2 separate regions of the Homo sapiens genome follow, and region 2 is linked to region 1. Evidence: fine-mapped expression QTL. Tissue or cell type: testis. Region 1 holds a variant in brackets; the other region holds the start of a gene. All regions are shown on one strand. Distances are between the middles of the regions.

Region 1 (5,211 bases):
AAAATGTAGTAAGTATACACAATGCAATATTATTCAGCCTTACAAAAAGAAGGAAATTGTATTATATACAACAATGTGGATGAACCTGGAAAACACTAAGTGAAATAAGCCAGACACAGAAAGATAAATACCATGTGATCTCATATGTGGAAACTTAAAGAGTTGAACTCAGAAGCAGAGAGTAGAATAGTGGTTACTAGGGGCTGAGGTGGGGATTACCAAATATATGCTAGTCAAAGGTAAGAAGTTTCAGCTAGACAGGAAGGGTAAGTTCAAGAGATCTATTGCATAGCATGGCAACTATAGTTAATATATTGTATATTTCAAAATTGCTAATTTTAAATATCCTTACCACAAAAAAGAGAGATAATAGATATTTTAGATTGATTTAGCCATTGTACAAAGTATACAGGTATAAAACATCACATTGCAACCCATAAACATATTTTCGATTAAAAATAAATCTAAAAACTTGTAAAGCAAAAATTAAAAATCCTTAAGTGTAAGAACCAGAGGGCCTCTTTGGCAGCTTATCAAGAGGCCCTCATCTCCTACAATAAAAGAGTAAACACAGCTCAACAAAGAAGTGAGAAAAACAGAGCTTCGGTGGGAAATGAATGTGCCCAGCCAGCTCGTGTCTGTTATGTTCAGGTCAGGACCTTGATGGGGAAAACTGGGGGATGGGGACATCTGGATGGATGCCTGAGAGTCTTGGCTCTACAGACCCCCTGAACCCTCAGTTTACAGAGGCGGCTTACTCTTCCCTAGTAAGTGCTAGCACTTCCCAGTAAAGGCCTATGTCACCAAGGCCTGCAGGAATGCACTGAGCATGGGGCACCAGTACCACTCAGAAGTTCTATCTGTTGCAATATGATCTTGTTTCAGGGCCAGCGTTGGCTCTCCTCTGCAGACCAGGGCTAGGCTCATGTATATCCACATGGGCTATGGCCTTCCCTAGGAGTCAAGGACTCAGACTTCCCATAGATAAAGGTCTGGGACACCAGGCAAGCTCTCTAGCCCAGGAGAAGTACTAAGGCAAGGGTGAGGATAATCCTGAGTAGGCAGTAGAGAAAGAAGAAAGCCATGTATGGCCTCAGGACCAAGTGCAGCAGTAAGAGGTAGAGCTAATCCTACTAACTGCTCTCCCCTACATGCACTTGACATCCATCTGAGTCTCAGTTTATTCCAACCTGTGATGGCATTGAGATGGTAGCCTGTTTCTATATGGTGAGATGACGTCTACTTCATTGGATTTTCGTGAAGAGTAAATGAGCTTATATACATGGTACATAGTATACATATGTTTGGCCTCTTTATAGAATGTTTTGTCATCTATGTCTCCTGTTACATGGAATTCCCAAGCTGTGCCTCCTAATTTAGTGAAATAGTACCCCAAAATGAAGGTACTGCAATCGTGAGCAATGATAGAGGGGTCACATGGTTCTGAACACCAGCCACAGAGGCTGCTGACAAGTGAATCCTGTCATCCTGGTTCAATTCCCTGCTTTAGAAGCCGCTAGATAAGTTGATTCTGAGAACCAAGATGTTTCTGAGAAGCTGGTTGTCATTTGTGATTGTTCTACATCCTTCTCCCAAGATTTTCCTTTCATCATTTTAATGCAGCTCTTAAACTTGAGTCATGACAATGATCAGCAGGCTCTCATGAATTTTGCTGCAGCAAGGTGTTGGTCAGAAGTTGGTAACATTCAATCCTTTCCAATTTGTCAGGTTCTCTGAAAAGCAGAGGCTGGGAGAAAGGTTTTGGAGTGAGAGGTTTCCTGGGGGTACTGCCTGTGAACAGTGAAGGGTGAACACAAGGTCAAGCCAGTGCATTAGTTTCCTCTTGCTGCCATAGCAAGTTACCACACTTACTGGCTTAAGACACTAGTTTATCATCTTATGGTTCTGGATGTCCGAAATAAACAGGTTTCTCTGAGCTTAAAAAGTCAAGGTCTTGGCGGCAGCCTGCGTTCCTCCTGAAAGTTCTAGGGGAAAATCCACCTACTCACTTTCCAGCTTCTAGGGGCTGCCTGTACCCCTTGGTTTGTGACCTTGAATCATTCTAACCTCTGCTTCCTCTCATTCTGACTGATTATCCTATCTCCTCTCCTTTTCAAGTACCCCTGTGATGCCATTAGACCCACCCAGATAATCCAGAATAATCTCATCTGAAAGTCTTCAACTTAATCACAGATGACAGTTCCTTTTACCATGTATAGAATACTCGCAAGTTCATGGGATTGGAATGAACATTTTGGGGGCATTATTCCACCCATCATAGTGAGGAAAGCCTTCAGGTGGCTGTGCAGATCTAAAGTGGGGAGGAGGACTAGGCATAGAGACTTCAGTTCTGAGGCCGATCTGACAAAGTCTCCACCAGTTAAAAATCAGCAGAGTCATGTATTTTGGCAGAAATAGTCTCTAATTATAACTACCAGACTCAGTCGTTGGCTGGAAGCTGCCCACGAAGACCATGACCTTGGCTTGAAAGCCCAAGTGGATCCGGAAGGACAGCTGGAGGCTTTCCACCATCTGCGCTCATAATAGCTGAATAAGAAGTTTTTCTATGAAGGGAGATCCATGTAGCATTTTCTATGGCCACATCTTTAGTGACTGCACGAATTGAAAGGTACATAGGGATAATAACAAACAATATGGAAGGACAATCCTATGCTAGATTTGTTACCTCTGTTCTTGGATGTGTTACCCAGCATGAGTATCAAAGGGGTTTTGCCTAAGAATCTACCCTACAGAAATAGGAGCACAGAGAAGCAAGGGTATGTTATGTTTCTTCACTGCATCATTTTTAATTGCCAAGGAGATGGACAACCTAAATGTCTGTCCGTAAGGCAAACACTAAGTTCCAGTTCATTCATACTATAGAATACTGTGCACATATTAGGAATGAGTGGATCTTTATTGATAAATTGCCAA[G/T]ATACATCAAGTATAGATAGGAAATTGCATAAAAACATAAGTTATCAGCACTTTTGTGAAAGCTTGTTCTTCTACTTAAAGTATTTTTAAGTAATCTTTTAACAAGCAAGTGGGATGGAGAGGTGGGTAGTGAGAAAAGGACTTTGAATCTCAAGAGGAATATGTAAGACTTTCTACCAAAAAACTGCTTTTCTATTTCTAAACTTTTAAAAAGCAACAAACATTCTGATGGCTGCCATGAATGTTCACATTCTAAAGTTATTTTCAGCTAGGAAGTCAACTCCAAATAATGGAAAAATAGAAAACTATGATTTATCTGGTTGTACCCTTGGCATAATGCCTATTTTTCCATGAGACCTCAGCAGAATTGCCTGAGAATCATGAGGGGCGTTTCTTTAGCCGACATCACTGTGAATTTCCTTGTATCACCAGAAGAGGGCAAAGGTGGATAAATTATGGGACAGCTGACACTAAAGGCTCAGACTTACAGAAGTCACTTTCATTTTCCTCTGCAAGGCTGGAACTGCTGCTCTTGGCATTCTTGAACCTTAGAAGTGGTATCAGATATTAAGAGGGTGTATCATGCAAGGTTTAACCAGAGAAACAGAACCAGGAGATACATATTAATACATGTTGAGATTCATTGCAAGGACTTGTTTTATGCAATTGTGGAAGTTGGCAAGGCAAGCCCATTATCCACAGATAGGGAAGGCTTTCAGGAGGAACAGGCAGGAACTCAGGGGCTGCTGAAACTTCTGACCACAGCAGAATGTCTTCATTAGGGAAGCCTCAGCTCTGTTCAGTCCTTTCAAATGATTGGATTAGGCCCATAAACTTTTCTGGGAGAATATCCCTTACACTTCAAGTCAACTAATTGTGAAGTTTAATCATACCTACATGACACTTCTAAAGCAACACCTACATTAGTGTTTTTAGAACTGGGGACAGTGGTCTGGCAACGTAGGCATATCAAAAAATCATTACAGTCTACCCTTATCAACTTGGCACCCTTAGGCCTCACATTAAGACACAGTTAATCTCCAAATAGATAGTCAATTCTGCCTAATATAATACAGCTGTCCCGTGTACAACTGAAAACACAGTAACCCTTTCCCCAAAAGAGGGCGCAAGTTTACTTGGGTACAGTTTACTCTTCTTTAATATGTGATAGCTTGAATACTACCATAACAAATACTAGGTCAACTAGTATTAACATTTATATTAGACTGTAAGAAGATGAGACACAAATAGTTACTCTATATGCAAACATTCCTAACAAATATTTGTAACTGTCAGTGTCTTTGTTTCTACAACTAGTCAGATGGTCAGAGCTAGTATTTATAACCACCTTCTGCCAACCCCCCCTTCCATATTTCCTTTACCTCCAGTAAGTACTTCAGCAGGCTGTGGTTCTTTGCCGTATTGGGTAACCCAACCTTTCATTCCTGAAAGGTGTGGACCATTAGCAATCCCTTCTGAATGGAGTGGGTATGGTATTCACTTGACTGATCACAAGACATGGTGGTGCCAAGAGACACCCTAAGGGATCTTGGGTATTCCAGGCATATTAGACCTTACCTCCTTGTGTAGCAGTCCAGTTTCCCCTTGGTTGTCAGGAACAATCGCCCTAACCAGTACAGCAACTCCTTTACTTTTGAATCAGAGGTATGAGGCAGCCGGCCATCTCAACTTTAACAGAGTCATTATTTTGTCTCCTGGTAGAGTCATTCCTCCCTTAGGCTCTGCTGTCTAGGGGTCTTAGTTCCAAACTCCTTGGGAATAAAACAATTTAGTAGATCACTAGGGGATAATAGTAAAGTTATTTGTATTTTCACCCCTTAATTCTTACACCCTTGAAACCTGGTTATGGGAGAAACAGTTATATTGGACAGTGATTTAAAGACTACATAGAATCCTAGAAGCCTTAGCTTGAGCCCTGCAAGGTATTGCCAATAGCTGACGCCGTAATTTAGTTTTCAAAAGGCCATTTCCACCTTTCAGGCCAGTCCACATACCTCTCCCTGATACCTTATTGTATCCAGTTTTCTAATTTTATTCCTTCTACACTTGTATTCCTTCTACACCCCTGACCATTCAGCCAAAACATTGGCCACAGCTTAGGAACTATTACAGATTCTTACCTCAGGCCCTTTCCCCTTCCAGGCAAAATGAACAATCAGGTTTACTGTTCAAAGTTCTGGCTGCAGAAAGGATTTTCCTTCATCAGCATTCTTTAAGGATGTCCCAGAAATAGGCTGTAGTGCTGCAGCTGTCTAC
Region 2 (5,131 bases), 170 kb before region 1:
ATAGGCATGAACCACCACACCCGGCTAATTTTGTATTTTTAGTAGAGACGGGGTTTCTCCATGTTGGTCAGGCTGGTCTCGAACTCCTGACCTCAGGTGATCCGCCCTCCTCGGCCTCCTAAAGTGCTGGGATTACAGGCGTGAGCCACCACGCCTGGCCACTAATGCACTTTCTAATCCTTTCTGATGGTGTGTCTCAGGCAGTTAGTTAACCTTCCTAAGCCTCAGACTGTAAGGAACAATAGACTTACCTTAATAAAGTGGTTGAATAAAGAAAATGAGTATGTGCATGTAAAGCACTTAGCTCAGGGCTGCTGCAAACTAAGCTCTTAATTATTAACAATTTTCATTATTAGTTTGAGAATTTTTAGCAACACTCAAGTAAATCTCTTCGACATTCTTGAGTAAGACTACTGTATGGTAACATTTGATCTGATTTCATTGGGAGAAGGAAATCTTATTTATTTTTCTCTTGAAACTTACATGATTTCTTTTCTTGGACAACCATTCCCACGGGGCAAGATTTGAATTCGATCAATGAAGCGTCTAGGGATAAAGACTGAGCTCTCTTGGACACATCTACACCTCAAGCTTGTGTAATAGACCTCCAGAACACCTGTAAGTAAACACAGAATCAGTTATTTTAATCCATTGGCATGTAATTCATAACTAGAATTTAATTACTAATCTTTCATAACGTGCATTTGAAGACTTAAAAGTTTCAAGTCAGTGCTTCCACCCATATGTCTTTAGTTTGTATATTTCTGCTTGTCTTGGCTTGAGTATTTTCAAATGTTTTCTACCAAAACTTTAAAAATAAAGTTAGCTTTTAGGCCAGGCACAGTGGCTTACACCTGTAATCCCAGCACTTTGGAAGGCCAAGGTGGGAGGATTGGTTGAACCCAGGAGTTTGAGACCAGCCTGGGCAACAAACGGAGACCCCATCTCAGAAAGCAAACAAACAAAGCAAAAAGAAAACAAAACAAAAATTAGCTTTCAAAAAAACACAGCAATTTTGAAATTTGTGATAGTGTTATATTTGTACTCAGGTGATAGTCCACATAATAAAATTTGAGAACAGCCTCTGTAGGGACTTACAACTCAGTTATAATTAATGCAATATAAAACCAGTGGATTATCTTCACTCCCAACACATAAAAACCGAGGACATGACCTGGCTCAAGAGTCCTGGGAGCAATAACATGCTGGAACAGAGTTTTCTCTATCAGACTCTCTGCCATCCTCCCCTTTCCTCTCAGAAAATGTCACAGACGTTTTTGTTTGATATGTTGGTCCTCTGTCTGGGTTGCAAATCATTACAGAACAAAAGGCAATCATAAAAATTCAAAAGTCTTTTTATTTAACAAAAGCAATTAATACTGGATGGGTACCATTAGTATCCATCTCATGAATTTTAATGGGATCTAATGAAATCTAAGCCAAAGACATTTATCAGATCTTTTCTATCCAGCCTACTACTGTGCTTGACATACATTTATAAATAAAAAGGCTCACCTCTCAAGGTGTGTACAAGTTAGTAGGGGAAACAAGCAAACAAAAACTAAAATACCACAGAAGGTTGTATTACGCTCAAAATCTAACATGCATGCTGAGAACAGAAGATGTACTAAGAGCTACCTCTGCCGGGAGCCATGGGAAAGCCCCGTGGAGAATGCAAGAAATTAGGGTTTTGAAGAGTGAAAATAACATGTGAAGCAAAATTAAAACTGGGGGACAAAGCTCCTCTGTGTTTTAAGAACAAAAATTTGGCCTTCTAAATCTGAGCAGAAGGCTTCTTTCTGCACATATCCATTTCTTCGGCCACATAAAAACTTACTACTTCAACTGGATATTTATCTATTGACACAAAGATAGCTGCCCCACTTAGACATGGAAGTCTGCTTCTTTGCAGAATGTGTGTAAATACCCCTGGTGTACTGACAGTGGTGTACTTGATGTCAGATCTAACCATTTGGAGTTACATGAAGCATGTTCACTGCAAGAGACCAGTAGAGTTCAATAATCTTTAAACCCTGTATAGGGTTTGGTCAGAGTGGGTAACATTGAGAGGCAGAACAAAGAAGAGCTACATGTAAAGAATTATATATAGCAGGAGCTGAATCAGAAAAAGGCTGGGAATATATAATTCACATGAATATTGGACTTGTGGTATCTCTTTTTGCTATAAATAAAAATCTTAACAATATAAATACTTCCAGTTTTGAAGAGTTAAATTCCTAAACACCTTACTTTGAGAAATCTAGAAGGAACAGAGCAGTTTTTTCCCCCTTTAGTCAGACTTCCCTGCGGTTTTTAATCGAAAGAAAATTGAAGTGGTTAAAGACTATTTCTGTTCAACAAACAGTGAAATGTAAATGAAATTTCTCACCTTGGACTGGAGAGAGGCTGCTGACCAGCAGCATGAGAAGCAGAGATGTCGAGATGAACTTCATTCTGTCTGGAGGTAGAGTTCAGACTTGAGCTCTGAGTCCAGGCTGTGGGTTTGCAGTACCAGAGACTCCTATTTATTTATACCAGTAAGGGCCCTCCCACTGCCTTTGTCTCCAGTAGGTCAGCTGCATCATCAGCTTTAAAAGCCCCCAAATATTGCTGAGCTTGCTTTTTTAAAACTTCTCTTGCAAACTTTATAAATTTGTTTCAGAGCACTATAATAAAATATTTCTTGCAAACATGGACTATAAGTGCCAGAGACACTGGAGAAATCTGAGGGTGGGGAGAAAGGATAATCTATCAGCTTGGAAGCTCCAAAGCACTGTCTTTAGTAGCGCTATTGGTGATGGTGGTTTTGAGTGCTTCTCTCAGTGCAGGGTGAGCCAGGTTTCTCAGTGGCATTAGATATATACTCCATGACATTGGGGACTCCGTCGAGCGCATCACGTCCCTAGCATGTGGAAGGGATTCCGGCCTTTGGTAGGTGCTCAGTAAATATTTGCACAGCAAATGAATGTCTCTTTATATACAGATCCTAACGCTGATTATGCTATTGATTTTCCTACCAGTCTTTTCCATCTCTTATTTTGCTATCTGAAATATATGATTACTTATATAATCTGACCATCATGGAATTCTTAGAAGGGGGCAGTAGGAGTCCCCTGCTTTGTGTGCCTGTGTCTGCATGAAGGGAGGGAGACAACAGCCTTGAGGAAGAGAATCTCTCTGGCTGTCGTGTGCAAGTCCATGAGCTTGAGAACCATGTGGCAGGGGAGGGAGTCATTAGAACTGCATTAGAGGGTGAACCCCATATTACAGTCTGACATAAACATATGTGAAGTTAGGTTTTGATCCCACCAACTAGTCCATGGGGACAATCAGCCCACAGCTTATCCCATTTTCTAGAAGCTCTTTGATTAAAAAAAAAGTATGTAGACTGGCTAGTCTGGCCTAGAGTACCACTAAACTGCCCTGGAAGTGGACAAGGATGATGTATCAAACCAGACCCACTGATCTGCTAAGAAATCAGAGGTTTGGGCTTCCTGGCGCGATTTCCTAAACAATTTGGTTTTTGCTAATCAATTAGCATTGTGGATGTTTAGCATCCCAGGTGCCTCAGTATTCATGGGGGTAGAAGTGGAGGAGTGGTAATGCCACACAACCTTCACACAAAAGCAGTTCTCCAGTCAGCCTGAACGCAGTGACAGGGCACTCATTGATCTTGAGGCAGGTTATTCTATTGTTTGGCACTTCTAGTTGTTACGATGTTCTTCCTTATGTATATGTGAAAGCTGCTTCCCTAGCAGTTTGTTTATGCTTGTGTTGTGATAAGGGGTTGAATTTTGTCCTAATTCAACCCCTTATCACAACACAAAACAATTCTAAACAGTCTTCTATATGATGGCAATCCAAATATATGAAGGCAGGGTGTGCCAGTTGTGTCCTCTGCAAAGCAGATGCTGAGATGGACATTGGAGTAAAAGAAGGTTATTCAGAACAACTCCTGCGATAGACAGAAGGAGGAAGGAGGCTGAATTGGGCAGGGGGAGCCTCAGATTGCAATGCTGATCTGGTGAAGTCTACAACAGCTCAGTGGGGAGCTCCAGAGGAAAGACTGTTTATTAGAGGGGCCCATGGTGGGCAGAAATGTTCAGACTCTTCTACCCCAACCGTGCTCGGTCCTTAGCTGGGCCTCCTCAGAAACAACATGGTCTCTGGTTGAAAGCTGAAGCAGAGCCCGAGGAGGTTATCAGTAGAGGCTGTCAGCTAACTGCACTCCTTGCCGCTGGCCAGCAAGTTATTTCTTTAAGAGAGAGTTGAGTAGGCCACCTTTGAGTGTCACTCAGGGTTATAAACTAGAGGTTAACAGCACAAAGTCTGAGCTCAGCCTGGCAATGACTTTGGACAGGTCACTTAATTTCTCTATGCCTCATATTTACCACTTTCCACATGAGGATAATAGGAATTCCAAAGGGTTGTTTGGAGAAGAAAGCACCTGGTATATGTAGAGGGTTCGGCCAAATACTGGCATGTAGAATGTATTCAATAAATAGCCTGCCTGTCTGTCTGACTATCTAATCTGTTTGGGAAAAAACTGCTCCATTGCTTCTACATTTCTCAAAGTGAGGTGTTTAGGGATTTAACTCTTCAATCCATCCACCACCCCCATCCATCCATCTGTCCATCCATCCATAAAAGATCTTACTAACTTCCACTCCAAAACCCACTTCAAAAGTAAATACTCCTATTTCTTTGAATTGATAACAGTTTGAAACTCTCTCACCATCTTGGTTTACCTTTTTGAAACCTGTTGATCTTTTCCATTGTTCCTCATAAATTATAACTACCTTCCCTTTTGCCTCTCCATCACACTCTCTGACTCACAGCCACAGACACGCATACACTTAAATGCATACATCTGAACATTGTATTACCTCAATTATGGCTTTGCCAGTACAAGCTAGAGGAAGCCCATTACCTCCTTTGTCCTAGCACTATTCTTCTATTAATAGATTCCTAGACTGAATAACATTATTCTAGTCACTTATATTGAGTTGGTAGGCAATAACATTCCTGTTTTTGAATGGTCAATTTCTTACAGTGTCTAATTCATTTCACTCTTTTGTGATATGATCTTGAGACCCAAGTATAGAAGTTTTACATTTACCTCTAAGTACTA

Direction of the effects. Positions count from the first base shown, and alleles are read on the strand shown. Sizes are in standard deviations (SD) of each study's normalised expression.
For the expression in testis of the gene that starts at base 2,499 in region 2, allele T in region 1 goes with a higher level than allele G (moderate effect, 0.58 SD a copy in GTEx).

Evidence for each region. PIP is the estimated chance that this variant, and not a neighbour inherited with it, causes the effect.
Region 2: CXCL13 starts here. The variant in region 1 is fine-mapped to the expression of CXCL13 in testis (GTEx, PIP above 0.99).

The regions. Positions count from the first base shown.
Region 1 is chr4:77,431,735-77,436,945 of GRCh38, reverse strand. No RefSeq gene overlaps it. Among named protein-coding and RNA genes, the nearest start is that of CXCL13, 170 kb to the left of the region's middle. The variant G/T (reference allele first, on the strand shown) is at 2,935.
Region 2 is chr4:77,603,188-77,608,318 of GRCh38, reverse strand. CXCL13 (C-X-C motif chemokine ligand 13) reads right to left here and starts at 2,499. Exons shown (of 4, transcript NM_001371558.1): 1 at 2,390-2,499; 2 at 484-616. The coding sequence starts at 2,453.